Regions from separate parts of the Homo sapiens genome. Here all the other regions are linked to region 2. Evidence: fine-mapped expression QTL. A gene starts in region 2. Each other region holds a variant in brackets. All regions are shown on one strand. Distances are from middle to middle. Region 1 overlaps MCM9 (minichromosome maintenance 9 homologous recombination repair factor). Region 2 holds the start of MCM9 (minichromosome maintenance 9 homologous recombination repair factor). Region 3 overlaps FAM184A (family with sequence similarity 184 member A). Region 4 has its middle 10 kb from the start of FAM184A. Region 5 overlaps FAM184A (family with sequence similarity 184 member A). Region 6 holds the start of ASF1A (anti-silencing function 1A histone chaperone). Region 7 overlaps FAM184A (family with sequence similarity 184 member A).

The links.
Region 1: its variant is fine-mapped to the expression of MCM9 in whole blood (INTERVAL, PIP 0.93).
Region 3: its variant is fine-mapped to the expression of MCM9 in lymphoblastoid cells (TwinsUK, PIP 0.95).
Region 4: its variant is fine-mapped to the expression of MCM9 in neutrophils (BLUEPRINT, PIP 0.95).
Region 5: its variant is fine-mapped to the expression of MCM9 in whole blood (INTERVAL, PIP above 0.99).
Region 6: its variant is fine-mapped to the expression of MCM9 in whole blood (TOPMed, PIP above 0.99).
Region 7: its variant is fine-mapped to the expression of MCM9 in thyroid (GTEx, PIP above 0.99).

The regions. Positions count from the first base shown.
Region 1 is chr6:118,872,630-118,876,697 of GRCh38, forward strand. The region is part of intron 8 of MCM9 (minichromosome maintenance 9 homologous recombination repair factor); the gene reads right to left. Among named protein-coding and RNA genes, the nearest start is that of ASF1A, 19 kb to the right of the region's middle. The variant G/A (reference allele first, on the strand shown) is at 1,993.
Region 2 is chr6:118,932,655-118,936,722 of GRCh38, forward strand. MCM9 (minichromosome maintenance 9 homologous recombination repair factor) reads right to left here and starts at 2,505. Exons shown (of 14, transcript NM_017696.3): 1 at 2,237-2,505; 2 at 1-86. It overlaps LOC124901389 (a long non-coding RNA gene), which reads left to right and starts at 2,261. Exons shown (of 2, transcript XR_007059729.1): 1 at 2,261-2,336. RefSeq lists silencers at 1,754-2,003, 2,254-2,683.
Region 3 is chr6:118,982,554-118,986,621 of GRCh38, forward strand. The region is part of intron 9 of FAM184A (family with sequence similarity 184 member A); the gene reads right to left. The region is part of intron 1 of LOC124901389 (a long non-coding RNA gene); the gene reads left to right. Among named protein-coding and RNA genes, the nearest start is that of MCM9, 49 kb to the left of the region's middle. The variant T/TAA (reference allele first, on the strand shown) is at 1,596.
Region 4 is chr6:119,086,711-119,090,778 of GRCh38, forward strand. It overlaps a transcript of FAM184A not described here. Among named protein-coding and RNA genes, the nearest start is that of FAM184A, 10 kb to the left of the region's middle. RefSeq lists an enhancer at 3,482-3,983. The variant C/CTTTA (reference allele first, on the strand shown) is at 2,476.
Region 5 is chr6:118,975,920-118,979,987 of GRCh38, forward strand. It overlaps FAM184A (family with sequence similarity 184 member A), which reads right to left. Exons shown (of 18, transcript NM_024581.6): 11 at 3,446-3,599; 12 at 1-125. All of the region lies in intron 1 of LOC124901389 (a long non-coding RNA gene), which reads left to right. Among named protein-coding and RNA genes, the nearest start is that of MCM9, 43 kb to the left of the region's middle. The variant C/G (reference allele first, on the strand shown) is at 2,499.
Region 6 is chr6:118,892,054-118,896,121 of GRCh38, forward strand. All of the region lies in intron 8 of MCM9 (minichromosome maintenance 9 homologous recombination repair factor), which reads right to left. It overlaps ASF1A (anti-silencing function 1A histone chaperone), which reads left to right and starts at 2,099. Exons shown (of 4, transcript NM_014034.3): 1 at 2,099-2,469. The coding sequence starts at 2,361. RefSeq lists silencers at 1,834-1,973, 2,764-3,293 and an enhancer at 2,294-2,383. The variant A/G (reference allele first, on the strand shown) is at 2,000.
Region 7 is chr6:119,006,663-119,010,730 of GRCh38, forward strand. All of the region lies in intron 6 of FAM184A (family with sequence similarity 184 member A), which reads right to left. All of the region lies in intron 1 of LOC124901389 (a long non-coding RNA gene), which reads left to right. Among named protein-coding and RNA genes, the nearest start is that of MIR548B, 60 kb to the right of the region's middle. The variant C/T (reference allele first, on the strand shown) is at 1,731.

The DNA.
Region 1 (4,068 bases), 60 kb before region 2:
CAGAAAAAAAAGTTTTTAAATAATTTTAAAAACCTAAAAAAAAACACACACACAACTTATCAAAAGTTGTAGGATACAGCAAAAGCACTTAGAGCGACATTAGTGCTACTGAATGAATTCACCAGAAAAGAAGGAAGATACAAAAATCAATAATCTAAGTTCTCATCTTAGGGAAAAAAAGGAAGGCCAAATGAAATACAAAGTAAGCAGAAAAAAAAATTTAATCAGAAGAGAAATCAGTGAAATTGAAAACCAGAGGCCAAGTGGAATGATTCACGCCTGTAATCTCAGCATTTTGCAGAGCTGAGGTGAGAGGATCTCTTGAGCTCGGAAGTTAGAGACCAGCCTGAGCAACAAAGTGAGACACCATCTCTACCAAAATTATTTTAAAAATTAGTCAGGTATGGTGGCACACACCTGTAGTGTCAGCTACTCAGGAGGCTGAGGTGAGAGGACCACTTGGGCCTGAGAGGTGCAGACTGCAATGAGCTGTGACTGCACCACTGAACTCCAGCCTAGGTAACACAGTGAGACAGGAAGGGAAGAAGGGAGGGGAGGGGAGAGGAGGGGAGGGGAGGGGAGGGAAAGGGAAAGGGAAGGGGAAAGGGAAAGGGAAGGGGAAAGGGAAGGGGAAAAGAGGAAGAAAAGAAAAGAAGAGAAAAGAGAAGAGAAGAAAGGAAGTCTACACAGAAAGCAATGACAATCAACAAAACCAAAAGCTGGTTTTTAGAAAAGATCAATAAAATTCATCGGCCTCTGGACAGGATAATGAAGACAAAAATAGAAGAGACATAAATTACAAATATTAGAAATGAAAGAACCTCACTACAGATCCCACGAACATTACAGCATAATAAAGAACATATAAACAAACAACTCTGCCCATAAACTTGATAACCTGGATGAAATGGACCAATTCTTAAAAAATGCAATCTGCCAAAACTTCAACCAGGAGAAGCAATCTGAATAGGCTTATATCTACTAATGATGTTGAATCAGTAATTAATAACCTTCCAAAACACAAAACACCAGGACCAGATGGGTTCACTGGTAAATTTTACCAAATATTTAAGGAAGAAATGACATGAATTCTCTACAATCTCTTTCATAATACAGAGGCAGAGGGAATGATTCCTAGCTCATTGTATGAGGCCAACATTACCTTAATACCACACCAGATAAAGACATTACAAGAAAACTGCAGTCCATATCTTTCATGAACATAGATGCCAGTATCTTTAACAAAATATTAGTAAATCTAGTCCACAATGCATAAAAAGAATTGTACACCATGAACAAGTGTGATTTATCCTAGGTATAATCACGTTAAAAAAATCAATTAAGGCTGGGGGTGGTGGCTCATGCCTATAATCCCAGCATTTTGGGAGCAAAGGTGGGCGGATTGCTTGAGCCCAGAAGTTCAAAGACCAGCCTGGGCAACATGGTGAAACCCCATCTCTACAAAAAATACAAAAATTAGATGGGCATGGTGGTGCATGCCTGTAGTCCTAGCTACTCAGGAGGCTGAGGTGGGAGGATCACTTGAACCTGGAAGGCAGAGGTTGCAGCGAGCCAAGACTGAGTCACTGCACTCCAGCCTGCACAACAGAATGAGACCCTGTCTCAAAAAAATAAAATAAAAAATCAATTAATATAATCATCAGGCCGTTGATAAAACGGCCTAACAAAGAAAAATCACAATATCAATAGATGCAGAAAAAGCATCTGACAAAATCCGACAGCCACTCATGATTAAACAACAACACAAAAAACTCTCAGAAAACTAAGAATAGAGGAGCAACTTCCTCAACTTTATAAAGACTCTCTACAAAAAATCTGCAGCTAACATCAAAGGTAATGGTAAGAAACTTGAAGCTTTCCCACCAAAATCAGGAACAAGGTAAAGATGTCCTTTCTCATCACTGCTTTTCAACTTTGTACTCCAAGTCTTAGCTAATACAATAAGATGAGAAAAGGAACAAAAAGTATACC[G/A]ACTGGGAAGGAAAAAATAAAATGCTCTTTGTTCGCAGATAATATAATCATCTATGTAGGATGTCTGAACAAACTGAGAAAAAAATACTCATGGAACTAATAAGTGATTATAGCAAGGTTGCAGGTTAATATGTAAAAGTCAATTGCTTTCCTATATATCAAGAATGAACAAGGTGATTTGAAATTAAAAATACATTACCTATTACCATTGGCCGGGCACAGTGGCTCACGCCTGTAATCCCAGCACTCTGGGAGGCTGAGGCGGGTGGATCACCTGAGGTCAGGAGTTCGAGACCAGCCTGGCCAACATAGTGAAACCCCGTTTCTATTAAAAATACAAAACCAGCTGGGCATGGTGGCAGGCACCTGTAATCCCAGCTTCTTGGGAGGCTGAGACAGGAGAATCGCTTGAACCCAGGAGGCAGAGGTTGCAGTGAGCCAAGATCGCGCCATTGCACTCCAGCCTGGGTGACAAGAGTGAAACTCCGTTTCAAAAACAAACAAACAAACAAAATTACCATTTACATTAGTCCCCCTCAAAATGAAATGGGTATAAATGAATGAAATACCTACAAGATTTACAAGAGGAAAAGTCTGATGTTATCAAAGAAGAACTACATAAATGAAAAGATATTCCATTTTCATGAATAGGAAGACTTCATATTGTCAAGATGTCAGTTCTTCTTAACTTGTTCTACAGATTCAACCCAAGCTAATCAAACTTCCAGCAAAAGCTGGGCGCAGTGGCTCACATCTGTAATCCTAGCATTTTGGGAAGCCAAAGCAGGCATATTGCTTGAGCAATATGTGTTTCAATAGTAGCCCAGAAACACAGGGAGACCCTGTCTCTACAAAATACCCAAAACTAGCCAGGCATGGTGGCATGTGTCTATGGTCCCAGCTACTCAAGAGACTGAGGTGGGAGCATCACTTGAGCCCAGGAGGTCAAGGCTGCAGTGAGCCATGTTCATACCACTGCACTCCAGCCTGGGCAACAGAGTGAGACCCTGTCTCAAAAAAATAATAATAATAATTAAAATAATAATAATAATAATAATAATGACATCTTTACACATCTTAGAATGACTGTAATCCAAAGAACTGACAACACCAAGTGATGGTGAGGATGTGGAGCAACAGGAATTGTCATTTATTGCTTCTGGGAATGCAAAATGGACAGCCACTTTGGAAGACAATTTGGCAGTTTCTAACAAAAGCAAACAGATCGTTACCATACAACCCAGCAGCTGTGCTCCATGGTGTTTACATAAGGCACTGGAAAGTTATATGCACATAAAAACCTGCTCACAGGTGTTTACAGAAGCTTTATTCATAATTGCCGAAACTTGGGGGCAACCATCTTGTCCTTCAGTAGGTAAATGGATAAACTGTAATACATCAGACAATAAAATATCATTCATTGTTAAACACAAATGAGCTATCAGAGCATGAAAAGACATGGAGTAACCTTAATAGCATATGTTAGTAAGTAAAAGAGGCCAATCTGAAAATACTACATACTGTATGATTCCAACTATATTACATTCTCGAAAAAGTAAAGCTATGGAGATATTTAAAAGATCAGTGGTTGCCAGGGGTTGAAGGGAAAGAGGGATGAGGGATGAACAGGCAGATCACAGAGGATTTGGGGGCAGTAAAACTATTTTGTACAATACCATAATGGTGGATATGTGTCATTATACATTTGCCAAAGCCCATGGAATGTACAACACTGAGTGAATCCTAATGTAAATAATAGAATTTGGGTAGCAATGATGTGTCATTGTTGGTTTATCGGTTGTAATGAATGTACCACTCTGAAACTAGCTGACACTAGAGAAGGTTGTATGCATGGCAGGGAGGGAGAATATAGGAACTATAGTTTCTGTTCAGCTTTGTTGTAAACCTAAAACTACTCTAAAAAACAAATTTTATTAATTAATAAGCAAAAACTGTTGTGACCCTGAGTTGGGCAAAGATTTCTTACATATGACATCAAAGGCACAGTACTCAAAGAAAAATTATAAGTTGATCCTCGCTGAAGTTAAAAATGTTTGTTCTTCTACAATGTTAAGA
Region 2 (4,068 bases):
TCCTTAGAAATTCATACTTGGAAGTGAATTTGTTTCCTTCTTTCTCTTTCTTACCGTAGGAAATCTACTGGGTTCTGCAGAAACAGCTGTCAACAATGCAAAGAAAACAGATAAACATAGGAAGGTGAAAAAACACTGAGTCTTCAAATAATAAAAAAGTATTATTGAAAATAAATACAGCATATACCATTACTTTATCTCATTCCCCTGGCACTCTATTAAAAAGTATGTATCTACAGATAAAAAGCACCTATCCCCATTCTAGTTTCATGTATACAGACGGATAACAAATTACATATGTATAAACCCAATTCAATGTCCATTTCCTAATATCTATCATGTACAAGGCACTATGCTGGCAAATGAAAAGTATAGTAAAAGGTTCTCTATGTCCTCAGAAATCCAAGGGGCAAATAAAACGAAACAGTGCACTACCAGTGGTCAAAAATGCAATATGAATAGGAGTCAAAGGAGAGGGAGGTTAAATTTAAATGAGGTGACGATCTCAGAAGTAGCACTGGACAGTTAGAAACCAGCTGTCCAAATAAGAAACACTTATTTGGGGCCGGGCGCAGTGGCTCACGCCTGTAATCCCAGCACTTTGGGAGGCCGAGGCAGGTGGATCACGAGGTCAGGAGATCGAGACCATCCTGGCTAACACGGTGAAATCCCGTTCTCTACTAAAAAAAAATACAAAAAAAATTAGCTGGGCGTGGTGGCAGGTGCCTGAAGTCCCAGCTACTCAGGAGGCTGAGGCAGGAGAATGGCGTGAACCCGGGAGGCGGAGCTTGCAGTGAGCCGAGACCACGCCACTGCACTCCAGCCCGGGCACAGAGCGAGACTCCGCCTCAAAAAAAAAAAAAAAGAGAGAAACACTTATTTCGTTTGGAAAGAGATTGAGGACTGGAGAAGAGGTGTACTTAAATTTGACTTACTTCATTTGTCCAACATTTATTGTACTGGACTCTACAAATACGAATATTAAAGGAGACTGCTATAAAGTTCACAGTTTATCATCCTAAGTACGTGTTATACACGCTATTTGCTATATTTTGCTTTCTCTGAGAACCTACTATTCCGCAAGGTGTGAAACGTTTAAGAAGTACATATAGCAGTTAGGTCAAGAATCCTGACCACTATAGGAGGCCAGAGTGAGAGTAAGAATGAGTAAATGTATATCCAAAACAATGAGTGGAAATAAATTACGGCCTCCACGGTAATTTGTTTTTGGTTAAGCAATATAAATTCAGCCAAGTGTAAAGCAGAAAAAGCACTTGGGAAGGAATATCTCCACAATGTGGACTTTGCCCAAAAAAAAAAAAAAAAAAATCTGGACTCCCAACAGTGGCTACAAGAGAATCACTATGATTCTATTAAAGCATATTAAGTTTAGAGCCACAAATTTAGCAATTTGAAAAACAGCTCCACACAAGGCAGGAAAAGGGCAGCAGCAGAATTCAACGTTCAAATTAAGGTCAGATTAAATTTTGCCTAGTTAGGCTAGCATTTCTATGGTTATATGGACCATCGTTATTCATTCCCTTTCAACATCTATGCAAAACTGACTAATCAACTGTGTTATCAGCAGTTTGCTAAATCAATAAACGTACCTACTACCCACCCAGATAGACACTGGAGGGACTTTTTGTTTTGAGAAGGGTCATTTCACAACTTTCAAGTTCTCTTTCCTTTTCTTATTGAATATTTGGGGTCAAAATAAAATCATTTGCTTTACTTTGTCCTCTTGACCACAGCGAAGCGTCGAAAAGAAGACAGGAGAGTGCCTAACTGCACTGGCATCCCCCAGCTGTCTCCGGGAATCGCGGCAGCCCCGCCCCGCCCGCCTGCACCTGCCGGGAGCCCCGCCCCCTCCGCGCGGGCTGGCGGGACGCGCGCCCTCGGCCCCGCCCCACTCCCTCCGCCCCTCTCACTGCGGGGGCGCGCCATTTCGCGCCTCCGGGCCGCTCGGCTGCCCCAGGGGCGCCTGGCAAACGTGGAGTCGCTCGGTTTTGGAGGCATGCTTTCCAAACTTTCTAATTCACAGGGTCTTTGCACGCAGCCCCTGCCCCACAACACCTTGGCAGTCTCTGAGACTTCTGGGGCTCTTCTCCCGGGCAGCTCCCGTGCCTGTCCGGTCCCGGAGTTGAATAGTTTTTGAAGTAATGAGACGGGAACGAGACTTGGGACGAACTGGAGAAAAACATAACCGCGAAAGGAGGAGGCGGCTATCACTTACTGGCTGTGTCAGAAGTCGCCGGGAACGCGTTGCTCCCGAGGCCGAAGGGCCCAGAGAGCTCCAGCCAGGCAGCGGGTTCGTCTCCGGCGCAAGAAGGCTGGTGAGGCGGAGTGCGCGCGTGCACGTGGCCGCTCGAGGCGCCACCGGCCGCGGGGACGCGCGGGCTGTGTCGGGCGGCCTAGCGCCTGCGGCTCTGCCGGGCCTGCGCTCTCGACCGACGCCGGGCCGCGCACCGCCTCAACTTCCCTGCCCCGGCGGCTCTTCCGGATGGAGACGAGGCAGCGGGGCGGGGTGGAGCGGAGCGGGCGGATTGGGGCGGAGCCAGGAGGGTCCCGGGCGGGGAGAGGGGCGGGACCCGAGCAGTGACCTCAGGCTAAGTGGCCAGAGCAGGGTTGTGCGGCGGCTCAGATCGGATCTTAGGGTTTGTTTTTTGTCTGTCCAAGGAATTTGCCTAACCCAAGGCCACAGAGGATCTCTTCTGTGTTTTCTGACACAAGTTTTAGAATTTTAGGTTTTATATTGAGGTCTGTGATCCAATTAGAGCTAATTTTTGTCTGTGGTGCAAAGTATGGATCTTAGGTCATTTTTTTGTATGTGAATAGTGTCATTTGTTTAGAGAGCTTTCTTTTTCTCACTGAATAGCTTTTGCACCTATGTTTAAAATCAGTTGTCCCTAAAGCATCAGTTGTGGGTCTATTCTTAGACTTTCTATTCTGTTCCGACAATTTATTATATTTCTCTCTACAAAAATACCACATTGTCTTGATTCCTGTAGATTCGTAAGAGTCTTAAAATCAGATCGTGTTTGGCCTCCAATTTTTTGTTATTTTTCAAAAATGTTCTGGCTCATCTAGTCCCTTGGGTTTTCATATGAATGTTAAAATCAGCTTGTCACTTTAAAAAGTTGGGATTGTGATTGGTTACATTTCGTCTATAGATCCATGTAAGAATAATTTACATGTTAACAATATTTAGTAATGACCCTTAAAGTAAGCCTCTTCATTTATTTAGGTGTTATTTCACTCAGCAAATGTTTTGATCTTTTGTCAGGTCTAGTCTTATATAGTCCATTTTCACAGTGCTAATAAAGACATACCTGGGACTGAGTAATTTATAAAGGAAAGACGTTTAATTGACTTACAGTTCAGCATGGCTGGGGAGACTTCAGGAAACTTAAAATCATGGCAGAAGCGGGAGCAAACCTCCTTCTTCACAGGGCTGCAGGAAGGAGAAGTGAGGAGCAAGGAGGGAAAAGCCCCTTAGAAAACCATCAGATCTTGTGATACCTCACTCACTATCAGAGAACAGCATGGGAATAACCACCCCCATGATTCAGTTACCTCCCACCGGGTCCCTCCCACAACACCTGGGGATTATGGTAACTACAGTTCAAGATGAGGTTTGGGCAGGGACACAGCCAAACCATATCACCCTATGTCAGATTTATCCATAAATCTAAGGATGGGGGAAAAATATACTTCTTGATATTATGTAAATGACATTTTAAATTTTCAGTTGTTCTTTGATAGTGTCTTAGTCTGTGTTGCTAAAAAGGAATGCCTGAGACTGAATAATTTACAAATAAAAGAGGTTTATTTGGCTCACACTTCTGCAGGCTGCTTCTGGTGAGGGCTTCAGGCTGCTTCCACTCAGTGAAGGGGAGGCTGCCTGTGCAGATCACATGGCCAGAAGAGAAGCAAGAGAAAGGGGAGGTAGTGGTCAGGCTCTTTTTAACAATCAGCTCTGGAGGCAACTAACAGAATGAGAACTCATTATGCAATGGCAGCACTAAGTTTTCCTGAAGGATCTGCCCCTGTGACCCAGACACCCCC
Region 3 (4,068 bases), 50 kb after region 2:
CAAAAAGAATGGACATGTTTTTCTGCTTTGCACAAAGGTGCCATATAGGCTAGCAGTGGCCCTGGATCCCATCCTCAAATTTAGTGTGTACTTCAATTAGTAGGAAACCAATCAGCTCACAGTGGTGTTTCTTATTTTCTGCAATACCTACTTCAAAATTTGCTGAATCGACAGACCTCTCATACGTTAATTTGACTCACGTTTGACCTATTAACAGATGAAACTTATGAAGAAATGCAATATTTAAAGTGAATGACTGGAAGTACCACAGTGCATAATAGTTACATATTTAAAATCTACAGAGTTTTAAATTTCTCCAGCTAAAATAAAATACACTTAAATATTTTACATTGTAATATACTTTACCTTGAAAGAACTCCAAAATAGTACTTTCCATCTTAGGATATGTGATTAATCTTTGTATCTACACTCAAGAAAATAATATAAACTATGTGCAGAAAGATATGATCATGCAATTTAGTGTTCAAACATACTTAGATATTTTGTATTCTTAACTTTGAAAGCACATCAAAATAATATTAAGGCCATCGAAAATCTTTGAATTCATGCTCAAGACAGTAATGTGAATTATATGCAGAAAGCCTTAATCATGCAATGCAATATCAAAATTTATTTTGTTCTTTTTAAAAACAAGTTAGCAGAATTGCAATAAATAGCTTTTATTCAGCATGAAAAGTACATGGCACTTTAAAAGACAATGAGCAAAGTAATGTAAAGTGAATTAATTTTTATAGCTATAATTTAAACAGCTGAGTTTAATATAATCAATAGAAATACATATTAATGTAAAACTTTAACTCAAAAGATAAAAAACCTCTGCTTTAAAAGGTTTAGGCAATTTTGGTAAGTATTTTTATTACAGAATTATAGAATATCTAGAAAGGCTTGTGTTGAATAAAGAATGAGAACAAGTAGTTGCTTCAAACTATATATTATATTCAAATTATGTAGTGCACGGTATTAGTTTCTATACATTCGTTAAAATTTAAAAAATTCTATTTCTTATTTTGTTTAAATAAACCAAAATATTTTATTTCAGAAAATAATTTAATCTTTAGTTTTTAAATTCTTAGCATAGCAATTTAGATATGAAATATATTCTACTGGTTGATAGGTGCCAGACATTTTAGAGACAATTTTAAAGGTCAAACTGCACTGATAGTAATTGCCACCTCCTGTCTCTACCATTTAAAAAATGATTGTCTTTTTGAAAATAAAGTTTTACAGTCTTTTTGAAAATGGAATATTAAAGTTTTATAAAAATTTCAAAAAGAAAAAATTAAAAATATATGGGCCGGGCACGGTTGCTCATGCCTGTAATCCCTGCATTTTAGGAGGCCGAGACGGGTGGATCACCAGAGGTCAGGCATTTGAGACCGGCCTGGCCAACATGATGAAACCCTGTCTCTACTAAAAATACAAAAAATTAGCCGGGAGTGGTGGCGGGCGCCTGTAATCCCAGCTACTCGGGAGGCTGAGGCAGGAGAATCACTTGAACCCGGGAGGCAGAGGTTGCAGTGAGCCGAGATCGCAGCACTACACTCCAACCTGGGCAATGATAACGAAACTCCATT[T/TAA]AAAAAAAAAATATATATATATATATATATTTATATATATATTTATATTTATATATATTTATATTTATATATATTTGTATATTTATATTTATATATATTTATATATATGGCTCACTGCAGCCTCAACCACCTGGGCTCAAGTGATTCTCCCACCTCAGCCTCCTAAGTAGCTGGGACCGCAGACATGCACCAACTGATTTTATATTATTTCTAGAGATGAGGTATCACTCCACTGCCCAGGCTGGTCTTGAACTCCTGGGCTCAAGCGATCCTCCTGCCTCAGTGTCTAAAAGTGCTGGGATTACAGGCATGAGCCACTGTGCCCAGCCTACTTTTTACAGACCAGTTTCACAAAGACTCTGTACCTCTATAATGGTGTTTGTGGAAGAACTCTCTCAAAACAAAAAGTGAAACATCAAATCTGAGGTACTGGGTATGACAGAATGTCAATATGAGACATGTCATTAATTATCTACATCTTACCTACAACCTTTGGTTTTTGATGCAATATCGGTGTTTTTTCTTCAAAAACCATTGAGCCTTGTTACAAAAGTGAAAGAATACAGAAAGTATACAAATGATGTGTTCTCCAAATAAAGCATGTCTTGAGATAGTAAACGTAATCTGTGATTCTCAAACCTGGCTGTGTATCAGAATCATCTCTGCAGATTTTCATAAAGACAGTTGCCTGTGCCCTGATCCCTTGAGATTCTGATTTAGCAGGTCTGGAATTGGGCCCAGGCTGCCTAAGATATTTTTATTCCTATTTATCAAAGTAAAAAGTGGTTCGTTATGAAAATTTTAAAAATACAGGAACATATAAATAAAAGGAAAAGTCTCCTTCATTCCCTTTCCTCACTTAATCCCTAAGGGTAACTGGTGTTAATATTTTGGTATGCCTTACTGCAGACTGTAATGGCTTAGGTCTCTCTTGATATAATTCACCGTTTTGTTTTCTTTTGCTTTCTTACCTAGATCATGTGTAAATGGCTAGATGATTTTACCAAATGTAGAGATATATCTGATAAAATGCTGGCTATGCCTTATATACAAAAGTTACAAAGGCTCCAGGGCACACCTCAAAAGATCAGTGCTTAATGTCCATAGCAGCTGAAACAGAGACACCTGGGGCAGCTGATGGGGACAGACATCCTGTAAGTATCACATAGAGAAACAAACACCACTTCAAATGTGAAACCATGAGAGTGTCCTGACCTGCAGATGTGGATGAGGTGGTTTTCACACACTCAACTTTATATATCTTCCAAGATGAGTACGCCAAGGGATTTAATGATGTTTAATAATTTTTCCAGTAGAGGGGCCAGCCAGTTTGTGTTTTTGTAGTTTTTTCCTTCCCTTCAAAGTGGCATTTATAAGGTACTCACGATATTCAGATATGACCCATTCCTTTTAATAACCACATAGACTTCCTAGGGCTGGCACTGTCCCTCACTTCTACAACAGCTGTTCTCCCTCCTTCCTTTCTTCCCAGTTGGCTGCCTGGGTTTATTCAGGGATTAAATGGAAATCCCTGGAAGGTAAGCCCCTCTCGTAGCACCTACAGATGAATTATGACTGGGACAAGAAAGTAATCTAATTCTAAAGTATTAACTCCAATCCTTTCAAATATATAAAACATTAAAAACTGCTAGCCTATCAGTCTGAGCAGATCTCAGGAAAAAAACTGCTAACCTAGGCTTAGTAGAGGACAGTAGGAATAACTTATTATTATGCCAATGACTTAACGAAAATGGTCATGTAAAATGTTTAAAGGTGCTCAAATATTTTAATTATATGATTTATTTTTCTTCTTTAATCACTAATGTGCTATTACTGAGGAGGCTAGTTAAGAAAAGTAAATTTGGCCTGGCGCGGTGGCTCATGCCTGTAATCCCAGCACTTTGGGAGGCCGAAGCGGGCGGATCACGAGGTCAGGAGATCGAGACCATCCTGGCTAACACGGTGAAACCCCGTCTCTACTAAATATACAAAAAATTAGCCGGGTGTGGCAGCGGGCGCCTGTAGTCCCAGCTACTTGGGAGGCTGAGGCAGGAGAATGGTGTGAACCCGGGAGGCAGAGCTTGCAGTGAGCCGAGATTGCGCCACTGCACTCCAGCCTGGGCGACAGAGCGAGACTCCGTCTCCGAAAAAAAAAAAAATTTGTGGAATATGTCCCCAATCATCCTCTTATTATTAACTAAAACTAATTAGAAAGTTATCTATGAAGGACAGATGTATCAATAACAGTCACTTGTTTTTGAATGTGCTAAGCACTGAATTCTTGTATGGAAAGCTGGGGTACACACCATGTACAGAGGGAGTGGGCAGGTGCTCATCCTGCAGAGCACGGCACTCTGACAAAGTCATGTTTTGCTGTGGATGATGACAGAGTAAAAAGGTGATCCTCAATGACTATAATGTTATAAAAGAGATTTCATTGTGTTACCAGCCCCTTTTACTTTTTTTGTAGGAG
Region 4 (4,068 bases), 150 kb after region 2:
GACAATCACGAGCCATTGGAGGGCTTTAAGCAGGAACATGAAATAATCGTATTTTCATTTTAGTTACATCATTTTTTGACTGTGGAAAATCGATTATGGGACAACTCTATAAACAAGGAGACTAGTTAGCAGGCTATTGCACTTATTCTGGTGAGAGATGATGAACCACTGACCTAAAATAAGGCAGTGAGAGTAGGAACAAAAAAGGATGGATGTGAAATATCCATAAGGTAAAACAGACAGGACATTGAGGCTGAGGAACAGAGAGCTGTCAAGTTTGCCTGATTTTTTCCAAGGAGGGGAGGCTCCTAGCACACGATACATGGTTATAAAATTAAGTAAAATTTACAAAAATAACATTCTTTGTATTTTTTAGGCCTTCCCAAATTGTGTATGTTTCAGGCCCCAGAAAACCTAGATTAACCCCAGGCAGTAGCAGTTAAGGTTAAGAATTAAAATTAGGATTGAGATGTGAGCTCAACAGTTAATGGACCAAAAGCATAGGCAGCAAAAGAAAAAACAGATAATTTGAACTTCATCAAGATAAAAACTTTTATGCGTCAAAAGATACTAACAAGAGAGTGAAAAGGTAGCCCATGAAATATGAGAAAACATTTGCAGACCATGCTTCTGATAAAGGATTAATATCCAGAGCATATAAAGAATTTCTAAAACTCAACACAAAAAGCAAATAACCCAATTAAAATATGGACAAAGGACTTGAATTGTTATTTTTCTAAAGAAGATATACAGATGGCTAATAAACACATAAAAAGATGGTCAAAACATCACTAATTATAAATGCAAATCAAAGCCACAATGAGATACCACTTCACACCCATTAGAATGGCTGCTATCAAAAAAACAAAACAAACCCAAACAGAAAAATAACAAGTGGTACATGGAGAAATTGGGATCCCTGTGGTTGAAATTGCTGGTTGAAATGTGAAATGGTACAGCCACTGTGGAAAACAGTATGCTGGTTCCTCAGAAAATTGACAGAATTACTGTATGATTCAGAAATTTCACCTCTAAGTATATACCCAAAATAATTGAAAGCAAAGACTTGAAAAGATAATTTGTACACCGATTGTCACAGCAGCATTATTCACAGAAGCCAAAAGATGGAAGCAGCCCAAATGTGTATTGATGGATAAATATGGATATACAGAATGTGGTATATACAACAGAATGTTATTCAATCTTAAAAAGAATGACACATGGTCCATAAATGAAACTTAAAGATATTACATTAAGTGAAATAAGCCAGTTACAAAAGGACAAATACCATATGATGTTTTACTTATATGAAGTAGCTAGAACACTCAAATTCATAGAGACAGAAAGTAGAATGGTGGTTTCCAGGGGCTAGAAGGAGAAGGGAATGGAGAATTATTGTTTAATGGGTATAGGGTTTCAACTGGGGAAGATGAAAAAGGTCCAGAAATGAATGGTGGTGATGGTTGTACAACAGTGTGCATCTACTTAATGCACTAAATATACACTTAAAAATGGTTAAAATGCTAAATTTTATGTTATTTATATTTTGCCACAATTAAGAAAAGATTCATCGATGAAAAGTACTCTTGCTACTTATGGGAAGTGCATTCCAGTGAACAGACAATCAGAGAATGCTGTTCTATCAATCAATAAACATTTATTCACTGCTTTCCTCATGGAGATGAAATAGACATTTCCTATCCAAGGTCATGGTTAGCTAAAGAGGACGTCTAAATATAAGATTTGAAAGAAAGAGGTAGAGGAAATGTTCTTCTTTCTTCTTTTTTCTATTCTTTCTTCCCATTTTGGCCAGAAGAATCATAGAGACCAAGTTAGGCAGTCAATGGAAAATGATACTAAATATCTACAAAAGCACCTGTACTAAAGATCTACAAAAACTTCTTCGGGGTTGGCCAGGTGATCTCAAAGGTACTTTTCAGGTCTTTTATTTGCATCTCAATGTTATGCCTCTTAGGAACATTCAGTATTTGAATGGGACTCAATCTAAGGCCATAGAGCAAGGTATAAGGGACTCAGAATCACTATAGACTGTGTACAAGCAACTGAACTCCAATGGAATCAATAATCATACTAGCTTTTTGTAAGACTTCACACAAATAAGGAAAACATTTTGAGTTAAACATTTTCTAAATGACAACTCTTCTCTTGGTGCAAGTTTCCATGTATAATGAAAAGAGAATCAGAATCTTGGTTGGTATTCTGGGTCTCATGTTGCCACTAAGCCACCTCTTTTCTTCATTTGTAAAATGAGGAGATTGGACTAAATGATCTTGAGTATTTCTTATATCTCTCTCATGTTACATGTTGAATTATTTAATATTTTCTATTATTTATTTATTTTAGACAGGATCTTTCTCTGTCACCCAGGCAGGAACTCTTGGGCTCAAGCAATCTTCCCACCCTCGGCCTCCCAAATAGCTAACACCTATTTTTTTTTTTTAATTATCTCTCTCT[C/CTTTA]TTTATTTATTTATTTATTTATTTTTTTATTTTTTTGAGACAGAGTCTCACTCTGTCACCGAGGCTGGAGTGCAGTGGCTTGATCTTGGCTCACTGCAACCTCCACCTCCCAGGTTCAAGCGATTCTCCTGTCATAGCCTCCCAAGTAGCTGGGATTACAGGCATCTGCCACCACACCTGGCTATTTTTTTTTGTATTTTCGTAGAGACGGGTTTCAACTGGTCTCAAACTCCTGACGTCAAATGATCTGCCTGACTTGGCCTCCCAAAATGCTGGGAATATATACTTTTTAATTCTTGTAGAGATGGGATCTTGCTACATTGCCCAGGCTGGTCCTGAACTCCTGGTCTCGAGTAATCCTCTTGCCTCAACCTCCCAAAGCACTGGGATTACAGGTGTGAGCCACCATGCCCAGCCATTATTTCATATTTTTAGAACAGAATTTTGTTGTATTTGTATGGATATACCACATATCAATCATGCTCCAACTCTCACTTCCACCTCCTAACACACCCAAAGCATGGTACACAAAATAAGCCTAAATAAGGTGGTTCTTGTTTCTTTAGATAAGTGGTTAATCTAGATGGCTGCATATTGGTAAACATCGTTATAAAAGAGTTTGACTATGATTTGTTGGTTTCTTGCTATGTGCTTCTTTCTCTTTTTTCCTTATTTTTGTTTCTTCCCCATGAATTCAGAAAACTCATCTCTATCATCAACTGATAATGATATTGAAAACCTTCTAAAATGTTTGATACATAATACATGCACAATAAATGTTTATTTCCAATTTTTAGTTAACTTCATTTTCTCAACCAACACTATCATTAGCTTTTTCTCTAACAACACAGCCAACCCTTTCTATGAATATCACAATCAACCAGAAGCCAACTGGTTTATCCATCTACTTGGCTTCCTTTGCAAGCAGGGACTGAATAAGTTTACTTGATAGGTGATCTTGAAAAGCAAGAATATGAGAGAGATAAGGAAAAGCCATTGAAGGACACATTGTTGAGTTGGTTACCACTTTGGTCAATTGGGACTCAATCTCTGAAGAATCTTGTAAAATGAATCTCAGAATTTTCTCTAGCAAAGACGAAAGGCTAACACATTTATCTGCTGTCTCCTTTCACTCACTGATCGAGGATGGCTGCCAGGGGAATTAACATCTCTGTGTGTCTGGTTATTCAATGTGAGCTTAGTGAACTCCTGTGGCTTTGGAGAGAGTGGGAGTCAGGAAGGCAGAGAGATCCAGCAGGTGCTTGAGGGAAAACTGTGGCATGCATAGGAACTGTCCAACACCTTTGCAGCTGAAATCAAAAGAAGTGGCACAAGACATCAAAAGTATCTCCTACAATCTATCCCTTACCTTTCAGATCCATTTTTGCTCTATATGAAATTCATTCTGTCACCAACTCTTTAAGGTCATAGCTAGCTTCTGATTGTTAAAAGGACTCCAGATGAGACTTAGTGTAGCAAGCAAATGTCCCTTGCTGCAACTGCTCAAAGGGCCATAACTGATATTCATCAGGTCCCACTCAGATTTCCACCCATTCCAGATTTTTTTTACCCTTGGTGAGCACTTCAGCTAAT
Region 5 (4,068 bases), 43 kb after region 2:
TCTTCTGCTGATGTCTATGCTTCTCTCTAATTCCATTTTAGCAGCTGCCAATTCTTGATGATGATTATGCCGTAACAAATCAATTGCAGCTGCATGTTGATGGTTGAGTTCTGAGCGCAAGGAAGCTGGAATTGCAAGGCAAAAATACATTTGGCACATTTAAAAAATATTATCAATACTTTAGATAAAAATTATAGAAGTAAAAAATTATTTCAAAAATTAGAACACTTGTGTATGTCCATTAAATTAATAGATTATAAACTATGACAAATTTAAATATTACAGACTACAATATACTATCATGAATTTAAAGTTAATGTAGCTTTGATGAGGATATAAAATATTTCAAATGTTTAAGCGGATCAAGGTATTTTTATACATGCTTTCAGTATGCAGGTAAAGTGCTAATGGAGATGAAGTATTTTTAATTCGTCTCTTTCACTATTAGGATAATAAAATTTGGTCAAGCACGGGGGCTCATGCCTATAATCCCAGCACTTTGGGAGGCCGAGGTGGGTGGATCACCTGAGGTCAGGAGTTCGAGACCAGCCTGATCAACATGGTGAAACCCCGTCTCTACTAAAAATACAAAAAATTAGCCAGGCATGGTGGTAGGTTCCTGTAATCTTAGCTACTCAGAAGACTGACACAGGAGAATTGCGTGAACCTGGGAGGCAGAGGTTGCAATGAGCCGAGATCACGCCATTGCACTCCAGCCTGGGCAACAGAGTGAGACTCCATCTCAAAAAAAAAAAAAAGAATGAAATTTTAGAGTTTAATGGTACCATAACAAATATTTAGGAGGCAACTTCTCACCCAAATAAGAATTCTTCAAAAATATCCCTAAAGGAGCCTGGCTGGTCAATGTTCTCATGATATTGAAAAATGTTCAATATCATGAGCCACTAGGAAAATGCAAATTAAAACCAGAATGAGTTATCACACATTCCTATCAGAAAGGATGAAATATAATGACAACATCAAATGTTGGTGAGGATGTGAGCAAAATTTATATGATGCTAGTAGGGATGGAAAATGGTACAATCACTCTAGAAAATGTTTGGCAGTTTGTTACAAAACTACATATGCAGCTGCCATATGACCCAGCAACCGCACTCCTAGGCACTTATCCCAGAGAAATGAAACTTATGTTTATATGAAATTTGTACGTGAATGTTTATAGCAGCTTTATTTGTAACAGCTAAGAACTAAAAGCTCAGGTGATCTTTAACGGGCAAAGGACAACAAACTACGGTGGATCAAAACCACTGAATACTACTTGGCAATAAAAAGAAACAAACTGTTGATACACACAATAACCTAGATGACTTCAGATAATTATGCCGAGTGAAAAAAGGCCAACCTCTACATGTTAAATATTGTTGGGTGTGGTGGTTCACACCTGTAATCCCAGCACTTTGGGAGGCCGAGACCCGTAGATCACTTGAGGCCTGGAGTTTGAGACCAGCTTGGGCAACATGGTGAAACCCTGCCTACAAAAATTACAAAAATTAGCTGGGTGTGGCAGCACACACTTATAGTCCCAGCTACTTAGGAGGCTGAGGCAGGAGGATTGCTTGAACCCGGGAGGTGGAGGTTGCAGTGAGCTGATAGCACACCACTGCATTCTTAACCTGGGCAACAGAGTGAGACCCTATCCCTTCTCCCCAAAAAGGTTAAATATTGTATGATTTCATTTATAAAATTAGAGCATTCTTAACCTGACAAAATCATAGAAATGAACAGGGTAATGGTTGCCAGGTGTTATAGGAGGGGAGGACTGGGAATATAGGTGTGGCAATAAATGAACAACATGAGTCATCTTCATGGTAATGGGAATGTTCTGAATCTTGACAGAATCTTCGTCATTGTACTGGTTGTGATACTGTACCATAGTTCTGCAAGATGTTACCACTGGAGGAACTAGTTAAAGAGATCTCTGTAGTATTTCTTAAAACTGCATGTGAATCTACAATTATTTCAAAATAAAAGTTTTTTTAAAGACCCAAAACTCTTTTTGTCAACAAAGACATATTTTATTTATTTATTTATTTATTTTTTGAGACAGAGTTTTGCTCTTGTTGCCCAGGCTGGAATGCAATGGTGTGATCTTGGCTCACTGCAAACTCGACCTTCCAGATTCAAGCGATTCTCCCGCCTCAGCCTCCCAAGTAGCTAGGATTACAGGCATGCGCCACCACGCCTGGCTAATTCTGTATTTTTAGTAGAGATGCAGTTTCACCATGTTGGTCAGGCTGATCTCAAAATCCCGCCCTCAGGTGATCCACCTGCCTCAGCCTCCCAAAGTACTGGGATTAGAGGTGTGAGCCACCACACCCGGCCAACAAAGACATATTTGAATCATGTTTAGTGGAGCATGTTTCAATGGACTAAACAACAATAGTTCCAACACTGGGACTGTTTTTGCCTGCCCTGACAAAGCTGTGGAATGTGTATTCCCTTTTGGCCACATTTCTATAAAGGCGACCTCTACATTT[C/G]ACTACAATTCCTGTGCAAAGACAGGGCAGTAGTTCATTTTTTAATTCTCCTTGCTCAGCAATCTCTAGCACATGAAAAGGCTTTTCACAAATCTTTGACAAATGTCTAAATTTAATCTGATTTTCATGCTAGCAGTCATAGTGGGTTTTAAAGGAGGAAGAGGAGAGCTTTAACGACTTGGTCTGGGACTCCCAGCAACATTATCGATGAGAAACAGGGTCAGACGGCTTTCCCTTTGAGGCCCAAAATATTGATAACACTTCAGTCTTCTTTGCTCCAAATTCCTACTTGGAAAGAGTGTGCCACTGAAGTATGACAACATGTTAAAAATATTAGCATAATTTGGAATAAAGCCAAACAGAAGGAAAATGAGATGGTAAGAATAAAAAGTTATTGAATGACATAAAAAACAAAACCCAAAACAAATCTTTAAATACATATCCAGTTTTTCTTCAAAACTCAACCTACCTCCTTATAAAAAGTAATGATGTGAACACCTCATAGGTAGAAATCTCAAAGAAATATATACCTCAACAGAAGAGTCAGACCTAATACTGACTTTTCCCATTAAAACAAAATCTTGAAGTGTAAAAAACCATATGACCATGCAGTCTAAGGACATGTGGCTCCATGTCCTTTCTACTGAGCAGTGATTGATTTCTGGGACACCTCAATGTCCTGAGTCCACTTAGTCCAAAAAGGACAGATTAGAGTACCAGTGGTGTTGCTTGCATAGCTGGAGTACAGAGAGAGCTGAGGGGAATTCACTTTACTGTTTGTGTCCTGCCTATTCATGTGGTAACTTCAAATAAAATATGCAGTACACTTAGATATTCATTTTGACGTTTCAAAATTTTAAAATAAAACTTGGTGATTTTATGTTGAATTTAAAAAATGTTAAAAATGTACATATGAATATGACAAGATTGTAATCTTTTCAAAATACCAAGCATAGCCTTTCCTTCATCTTCTAATTCAAACCGAAGAGTCTGAAGTTCCTGTTCCATTTCTATCCGGAAGCCCTCCATTGACTCTCTGTGTGCATCTTTTAGTGATTGAAGCTCTGCAGAATGCTTCTGTTGTAAATGATTTTCAAGAGCCTAGAACAAGACAAATTCAAATTATTATGCTAGAATATAGGAAGGAAAATGCAAACAAAATAGAAAACAGTTACTAAAACTCAGTTATTATTTAAGAAATACAAAATGTTTTAGGTTCATTTTCAAGAAAACTAGACATAAGATAATCAACATTAGAAAAAATAATTAGGGTCATTTCAGTAGAATAAAGAAATCATCATGAAACCAATTTGATTCAATGTATTTTGTCTATATATTGAACAGGCTGGGCACAGTGGCTCACCCTTGTAATCCCAGCAGTTTGGGAGGACAAGGTGGAAGGATTGCTTGAGCCCCAGAATTCAAGACCAGCCTGGGCAACATAGCGAGACCCTGTTTCTACAAAAAAAAAAAAATTAAAAAATTAGCCAGGCATGGTGGTGTGCGCCTATAGTCCCAGCTATTCAGGAGGCTGAGGTGGAAAAATCACGAGTCTAGGAAGTCGAGACTG
Region 6 (4,068 bases), 41 kb before region 2:
CTACAGCATACCAGTTAAATTAGAAATATGCCAGGACATATCTGAGGAATCCTTTCGGTCTCTCCTGGAGTAAGGTAGTATCAATGGTGAGGAAACTATTGAACAAAGTGCTCAACGACCCTTTAGTATTTCTGACAAGCAATAATACAAGAGTTAAGACAGGAGAAGCCTGGAGCTAATTCTTGCAGCTTCCAGTGAAATGTTGGGGAGTTTTTTCTTCTTAAATACTGTTGCATATGATGTGTTAAACAAAAAATTTTAAAGAAAATAAGCCAAATTAGTGGCATTCAGGTAGATCTTCTCAGTCCTTCATGCTGCACATCCACCAAAAGTGAGTTTTACAACTAGTCTCATTGTAACACTTACGGTCAGACTGCAAAATGCACGTGATTTTAACAAGCATAAAATGTCGTTTTCATGAGACTGACTAGACTCTCCTCTTAAGAGTACCTGTAATAATCAGACAACTGCATACACCAGTCTCACAGGAGTTTTAATCTTCAAATGGTCATTTTATCTTACATATACAGAGTGTCTTACAGCATACAGCAATTTCCACTTTATCTGCTAGTGTTAGGACCAGCACTAATAAGAATGAAGAGTATGTTGTTTATCAGCCACAAAAATCTGTGTCTATCACCATGGTTTGACTCTTAATACTCTAATGTCACAAACAACTGGCTTGAAGAAGTGTTTTTTGGTAGGTCCTATATCTAACTGTTCAATCCACTGACAAAAAAAGGGAACTCTTCCCCACTCTAACCGGTTTTCCTAAATGTACGAGGGGTTGACATTAGCTGTCTCACATTAACTTTCAAAAGACCATCAGATGAAAACGTTTCATCAAAAGCCACCTACTTAAGTATGAACAATGACCAAAGAATGACAAATCAAAATTCTGGGCACTATACTAAGAGAAAACTCTTCCAGAACACATACTTAAGAATTAATTTTCTCTCTGAATTTGGCCAAGTTTGGTGGTTTCATTCACAACATTTAAGGAAAAAAATGATGGTTTATGGCTAGCAGATAATAAAACAAACCTTTATACCACTTACTAAATAGAAACGGTTTAGGCTCACAAATATGTTAAAGCTTTCTCTTTCCCCGCAATGGTAGCCAAGCAGCATAAACGAATCAACATTTCCTCAGTTCAGACCTCAACTGGTTACAGGCAAGCAAGGGCTCCTCAGAATTTGCTTTACTAACGGTTTAGGTCAGAAATTTTTTTGAAGATCAAATGTCTTGCTATGTCTTTGTGTTCTTTTTCCCATCTCTATTACGTTTGTTGCCCTGTTGGTCTCCTAACACTTCCATTTTCTCCTTTTATGTTCCTGCTATGCTCTCCAAATGGCAGTAACCTGAAGTATAACTGATCACACCTCTTGTGATTTTTTTTTATTCTAGGACTTCCCAGATCTGGACTCCGAAGAAGACGCCCAGGTGCAAGCCCAAAGGTTACCTATTTAAATTTTCCAAGCACAGTGTGTAGAAAATCATTCCTCGCCCTTCATTTTGTGTTGCTTAACGGCGCTGTCGTGCCTAAACGTAGATACTGGCCAAGAGCTAGATTTCCAAAATGGCTTTGCTCCTTTCGAGCTGACATCGGTCTATAACATGCAATTTATTTCCCCTGCAGCCAATCTTTCTCTCTACTCCAAATACTACCCGATACGCAGAAAGCTGAACCTAACCCAGTGTAAACACCGACTCTCATCTGCTAAATTCAGCAAGGCCGGCAAAGCTGTTGCACTGATGTAAAAAGAGCGTTAAATCAAAAAACCAAAAAAACAAAAAAAAAAACAAAAAAACGCCAAAACACCCACACGAAGCCAACTGGAGGGGCGGGCGTCGGCCGGATCGCGCCCTCCCGCCGCAGCCACGCCTCCCCGCCGCGGCCACGCCCCCTCCGCCCCTCTCCGCGCCGCCGCCGGCGGCCTCCGCGCGGGCCTCCCAGCCCTTATTCCACTCACTTTGTTCTCCGCCTTTGTCCTAATCC[A/G]CACCAGCAGGTGGAGCCGCAGTTAAAGTTTCCGAGTCCATTCCGGGAGCGGGAGCCCATCTTGCTGGCTGCCGAGGCCCTCGCTGGAGGAGGAGGGTCAGAACTCGGGTGCAGCCAATCGAGGGCAACGCTGCTACTTATCAGAGCAGAATGGGCTGTAGTTTAGTGAAATAGGAAAGCTGCAAAACACTGTGGAGTGCTCCCGTGTAAATAAAAAGAGGAAAAAAGTTTCTCAAGTCGCCGCTGCACGACGTCTGGCCGGCGCTGGAGCGGGGGTCTGCGCTCTCCCGAGCGGCCGCGCGCTGGACTTTATTGTGCCGCAACCAGCCCCAGTTCCCATTGTTTGTGTTTTTTTCAAAATATGGCAAAGGTTCAGGTGAACAATGTAGTGGTGCTGGATAACCCTTCTCCTTTCTACAACCCGTTCCAGTTCGAGATCACCTTCGAGTGCATCGAGGACCTGTCTGAAGGTGAGTGCGGCGCCCGTGCGCCCGGGCTGTCAGTTGCGGGCTGCAGACGTTGAAAGTTTCCCGGGCCGGGCCTCGCGCTGGGCGGCTGTGTTCGGCGCCTGGCGGCCGCGGGCTGCTCTGCGGAGGGAAACTTGAAGTTGATGGACGACGGCCGCCGAGGCGCGCGCGGCTTTCCGCCGCAGCCCAGGCGCCTGCCGGGCTCAACTTGCGAGGAACTTGTTTGAGCGGAGGAGCGGAGGTAGCCATGTTGTCAGCTTTGTCTGCGGGCGGGCAGCTCGGAGACCCGCACTCGCTCCCGCTGCGCCGCCTGAGGTCGCGCCGGGCTGGCTCCGCGCCGCCAACAGCCTCCGCGACCCTCCGGGCCCGAGCACGGAGGCTGGGAAGGGAGAGGCTGTGCGTGTGGTCGCGCCGGCGAGTTCGGAGCGGAGCCATCTTACCCCGAGTCGAGAATTGGGCCAGCGACCCCGGCGCACGGCGCCTCCTCTTGCCCCGCCGCCCGCCTGCCCCCGGCGAAAGGCAGGCAGGCACTCTCGAGAGCTCACGGTGGAGTCGCCGCACTCTCCGGGCTGGCCATGCCTGGCCGCTTCGGGGAGGAGAGCGAGGCTGTCCTCGCGCTGATTTCTGGCTTCCTCGACCAACCAGCGGGGGAGGCGGGCGCAGGCTCGGCCCCTCCGCGCCGCGGGCTGGGCGCCGGCGCTCCCCGGGGGCCGTGGGTCCTGTTCGGCCGGTCCTCCTCGGCCGGCGCCCGGGATGCGCCGGGATGCTGGCGCGCAGGCTCCCCAACCAACGTGGACTCCTTTCCCCTAATGACGAAAAGCTAATTTCAGGAAGAGAAATAGAGCTGAGGTAGGAAGTTACATTTAACCTAAAAGCAGAAATAAGATACTTAAATAATTTCCAGGACTTAATCTCTGCCTTATAAATAGTCTGAAGGAAGACTTTCTTCAAGACCGTGTTGAAATCTAAAATAACTCCACATCCAAATACAGAACACACCCTAAACATAAAACACAAACGTAGGCTAGGAAATTAAGGTCAACTCCTCATGTCAGTCCAAGAATTCTTGGTATTTTTTCTACATATATTTTAAGGTCTTAAAAATACGTATTTTTAATATCTTTAGTAATAAATATTTAGAAAGCTAAAACGACAATTATCTTTGCTTTAATTATCTTTTACTAAAGTAATTCAGTGCTTCATTTGCCAGTTTTGAAGGGGAAATAGTTTAACTTCATCGATGAGGGACATACTTTGAACTAGAAGTATATGTAAAAAATGCATTGAAGATGATTTAGGTAATCGTGGCATGTAAAACTTTTCATTTTAAAAACTAGTTTTTAATCTCTAAAATGTATATATCATATGTAAGGTTAATTTTAATTATAAAACAATATATATTCATTGTAATAAACTTTTAGAAAGTTGTACAGGCATATATAAAGTTAACAGTTCTCTGTACTCAGTGCCTTGCCCTATCTCCTTTCGGTAATCACAATTATTACTTTAACATGTGCCCCCGTTTTTTTTTTTTTTTTAAACCTATATAGAGCATAAATGCACATACATATATAGGGCAAATTTTGAAAGATGATTCATTTA
Region 7 (4,068 bases), 74 kb after region 2:
AGTCTTACAATTTCTTCCTAAAGTTTTTTATTTAGTTGTAATTTTACTGAATGGATGATTTCCTGATTAATTTGGAAAAAGCACTCAAATAACCATGACAGCTTTCTTCTGCTGTGTTTTGAAAAGACTTTCACATTTAAGATCTTCTTTTTTCATGACAACCATGTAAAGGAATAGATATACCTTTGTTTAACAAAGAGAATTCCTAGTTCCACCATATAATAAAATACCTATAAGAAGCTGAAGCAAGATAAAGATTATATAAAAGAGTAAAACAAAATTTTAGATAAAAATATCTTAAAAACCATCCTTTAAAATTTAATCACATATTTCATTTGAGTCCATATCTCCTGCTATTTGCAAAGGGGATAAATTTAGGTCAATATTGATAAGCTGGTAAATGTATTATAAACTAGAGTAAGTTATGATTCCTGTGTTTCCATACAAAATTTCTCATTAAATCTTTAAGAGTTGAATTTATACACTCGAAATTAGAAGCTAATAGATAATTGCTGATTAAGCATATCCCTACCATAAAGTTATGAATACTAAAATACATACATGAAATATTTCAAATTATTTAGGACAATGCTATAAAGTAAAAACCGCATTCTTATAAAATGGCCAAGCCTATGAAATTTCTACAAAAGTTGAAATTGGTAATTTAAAAATAATACCTATTTTTCCTTGTAAATACAGACATTACAAAAAAAAAATACAAAAATTCTCCTTCAATCCTTCTCTGACCCACAATTCCCTCCCCAAGTGCACGGCCTTCCTGTCCCCTCTCTATGCAGGTATATGCTCTGCAATACTGGTGGTGGTAGTATTTTATCTTGGTGGTGTCTCTAAAGGAATGCTAATCTCATAAGATAATTAGGGGAGCTACACATCTTTTCTGTGCTCTGAAATATTTTCACAGCAAAAGAATTACCTGTTTTTTAAAAGTTTGGTAAAATTCTTCCATTAAATAAATTATAAAGAATAGTATTCTAGGGCTGGGCGCGGTGGCTTATGCCTGTAATCCCAGCACTTTGGGAGGCCGAGGCAGGCTGATCACCTGAGGTCAGGAGTTCAAGACCAGCCTGGCCAACATGGCGAAACCCCGTCTCTACTAAAAATACAAAAAGTAGCCGGGTGTGGTGGCGCGCGACTGTAATCCCAGCTACCTGAGAGGCTGAGGCAGGGGAATTGCTTGCACCTGGGAGGCAGAGGTTGCAGTGAGCGAGATTGTGCCACTGCATTCCAGCCTGGCAACAGAGCAAGACTCTGCCTCAAGAAAAAAAAAAAACAGTATTCTAGTAACAATGTAAAGAATTCAAAGAGAAGGTCTATTAAGGCAATTACAAATCTAGAGATAGAATATTTAAATAGGCAAAAACTTCAAACTTCTGCAAAGTTAAATGTAATAAAATATAAAAAGCAAATAAGTGTTGAACATAACTGATCAGTTTGTTTTCTTAAATACAATAAAAATGGATACATGGGGAAAACACCTATTGTCTCCCAATAACAAAATCTCCTTATGGCATTTGGGGCATCTACTCGCCTTCTCTATCGGTCCATGTGGTCTTAGTAAGCGCTCAACTTAAACTCCAGAATGAAGTGCTTCATTGAAACGTAAACCAATAAGGTCATCTCATTTTGTTTGTATGTGGATTGGTTCAGGGGCAGGCACATGGTTTAAGCTTATCTAGTCACAGTGATCTCAGGACTTTAAAAGGAGCTCC[C/T]AGAAAAGGTTTTTTGCCAGCTCCACGTATACCTCAGGGAATATGTGATTGAAGCATGAAGTCAACACAAGAACAAACCCAATTTAAGAGAAAAAGAAAAGCTGGGTTCCATTGTCACAATTTCAGTTCTGAATCTAGTCTTGCCTGATGCTAACATTATCCTTGGACTTTACAGTCACATGAGTCAATAAATTTTTTTTTCTTTAGGCTAGTTTGAGGTAGGATTTCTGTCATTTGCAATAGAAATAAATACTCAGATTCTCCATATTAATGTACAAACTGAGGGAATACAGTAAGTAGAAACCTCCTCCCTGAAATATCCGTCTACCTCTATTTGTTCTTCTCTAATCCACTCTCCTTGCAACACTACAGTGAGTTTTTTATAAATTACAAATATGGACACGAGCATAAGCCCCATCCACTGCACAAGCATCCACATATTTATACTTATCATCTTTCAACTGTTTTTCACTGCCCTTAGGATAACTTTCAAAATCTTTCATGGGGCTTACAAGACCTCCACAACATAGCCCCTGCTGAAATCTCCAACCTCAGCATGGCATCCCTTCTTCTTGGTCTTTATATACTAATTGAGAGAAAGAGTAGGGTTAAGAATTGAGTTCTGAAAGCACACTACCTGAAATGGAATTCTGGCTTTACCTACTTATTATGTGCTGACTTGGGCAAGTTATTTTAACTTTTCTATGCTTTAGTAACTGGTACCTACTGCACAGGGTTGCTGTGAGGATTAAAGGAGAGAACAGTATAAAGAGGCTATATAAAACAAAGTCTGGGACTCAGTAAGCACTAAATAAATATTATTATAGTTGCTATCACACTCCGTTTTTTCTGGTGATATGGTTTGGCTGTGTCCCCACCCAAATCTCATCTTGAATTGTAACTCCCACAATTCCCATATGTTGAGGGAGGAACCCAGTAGGAGGTGACTGAATTATGGGGTGGGTCTTTCCTGCGCTGTTCTTGTGATAGTGAATGAGTCTCATGAGATCTGATGGTTTTTAAAAAATGGGAGTTTCTCTGCACAAGCTCTCTCTTTGCCTGCTGCCATCCATGTAAGATGTGACTTGCTCCTCCTTGTCTTCCACCATGTTCGTGAGGCCTCCCTAGCCATGTGGAACTGTGAGTCCAATTAAACCTCTTTCTTTTGTAAATTAACCAGTCTTAGGTATGTCTTTATCAGCAGCATGAAACAGACTAATACCACTGGTATTCTTACAATTCCTAGAAATTTCTCATGCCTCAGAGCGTTTGCATAAGCTTTCCTAAATTTATTATTTTGACGAGCCCTTGTTAATTACTTACCACCCTTTGTAATATGCCTCAGACTTGTGTTTACTTGTTTTTGTGTCTGTCTGTCCATAGTAGTAGGGACCATGTCTGACTGACTTATCACTGAAACCGCAGTGTGTAACAGTGCTTTGGTACCTAATAGGCATTCCATATTTATTAAATAAATGAATGAGTCACTTACAGAAAAACTTCGTATATACTTACTAGCAATTAAGAATAAAATCTCTTTAACATCTCAGAATGAAAGTATTTAACTCCTAGAAGGACCCTAAATGCCTTCACTTTCTTGACCTTGTATTGTACCAAGGCAGCTGCTAGGCCATGTGTGCCTCTAAGCAGGAAAAAGGCAATACCCCTCAGTGTGGAAGCAGCCCCAGAACATGGAAAGAGAAGCAAACAAAACTTGTGTGAACTGGGAGAAGACTCCCTTTCTTCCAGGCAGCAGACTTCAGAGAAAATTTAAGTTTTTCTATACTTCTTCTACTATAAACAGTGCTGAAATTTTGTCAACAATCCGTAGTTATCTGCTTAGGTTAAATACACAAAAAAATGAAACTGTTGAGTTAAAGGACATGCCTGTCTTTAAGGCTTTCATATGTGCTGATAAATCCCTTTCGAGGAAAATTATACAATTTTGAATCCCCATCAGCAGTTTCTGAGTGCTTATTTCTTTATCGTTATTAACACTGCATGGTCTCAATTTTTTTATCATTGTTAATTTTATGGTGATGGAATGGCATCTCATTGATTTCATTTCCAGTTCTTAAATTATACAAATTATTTTTTCCTGCTTATTTTTAGCTTGTAAAAAGATAATCTGGGTGTCTGTATTTTTCTTATTGTTTTGTAAATACTCTTAAAAGTGTTAAAGACATGAACTCTTCATTGGTCAATTTGTCAGTCTCTTCATCTCTCCCAGTTTTTCCTCTTTTTAAATTTTGCTTATGGTGTGTTTTGATATAAAGAAGTTTTAGCTTTAACTGTACAAATATTCCATGTTTCAATTCACAACTTTGATATCATGTTC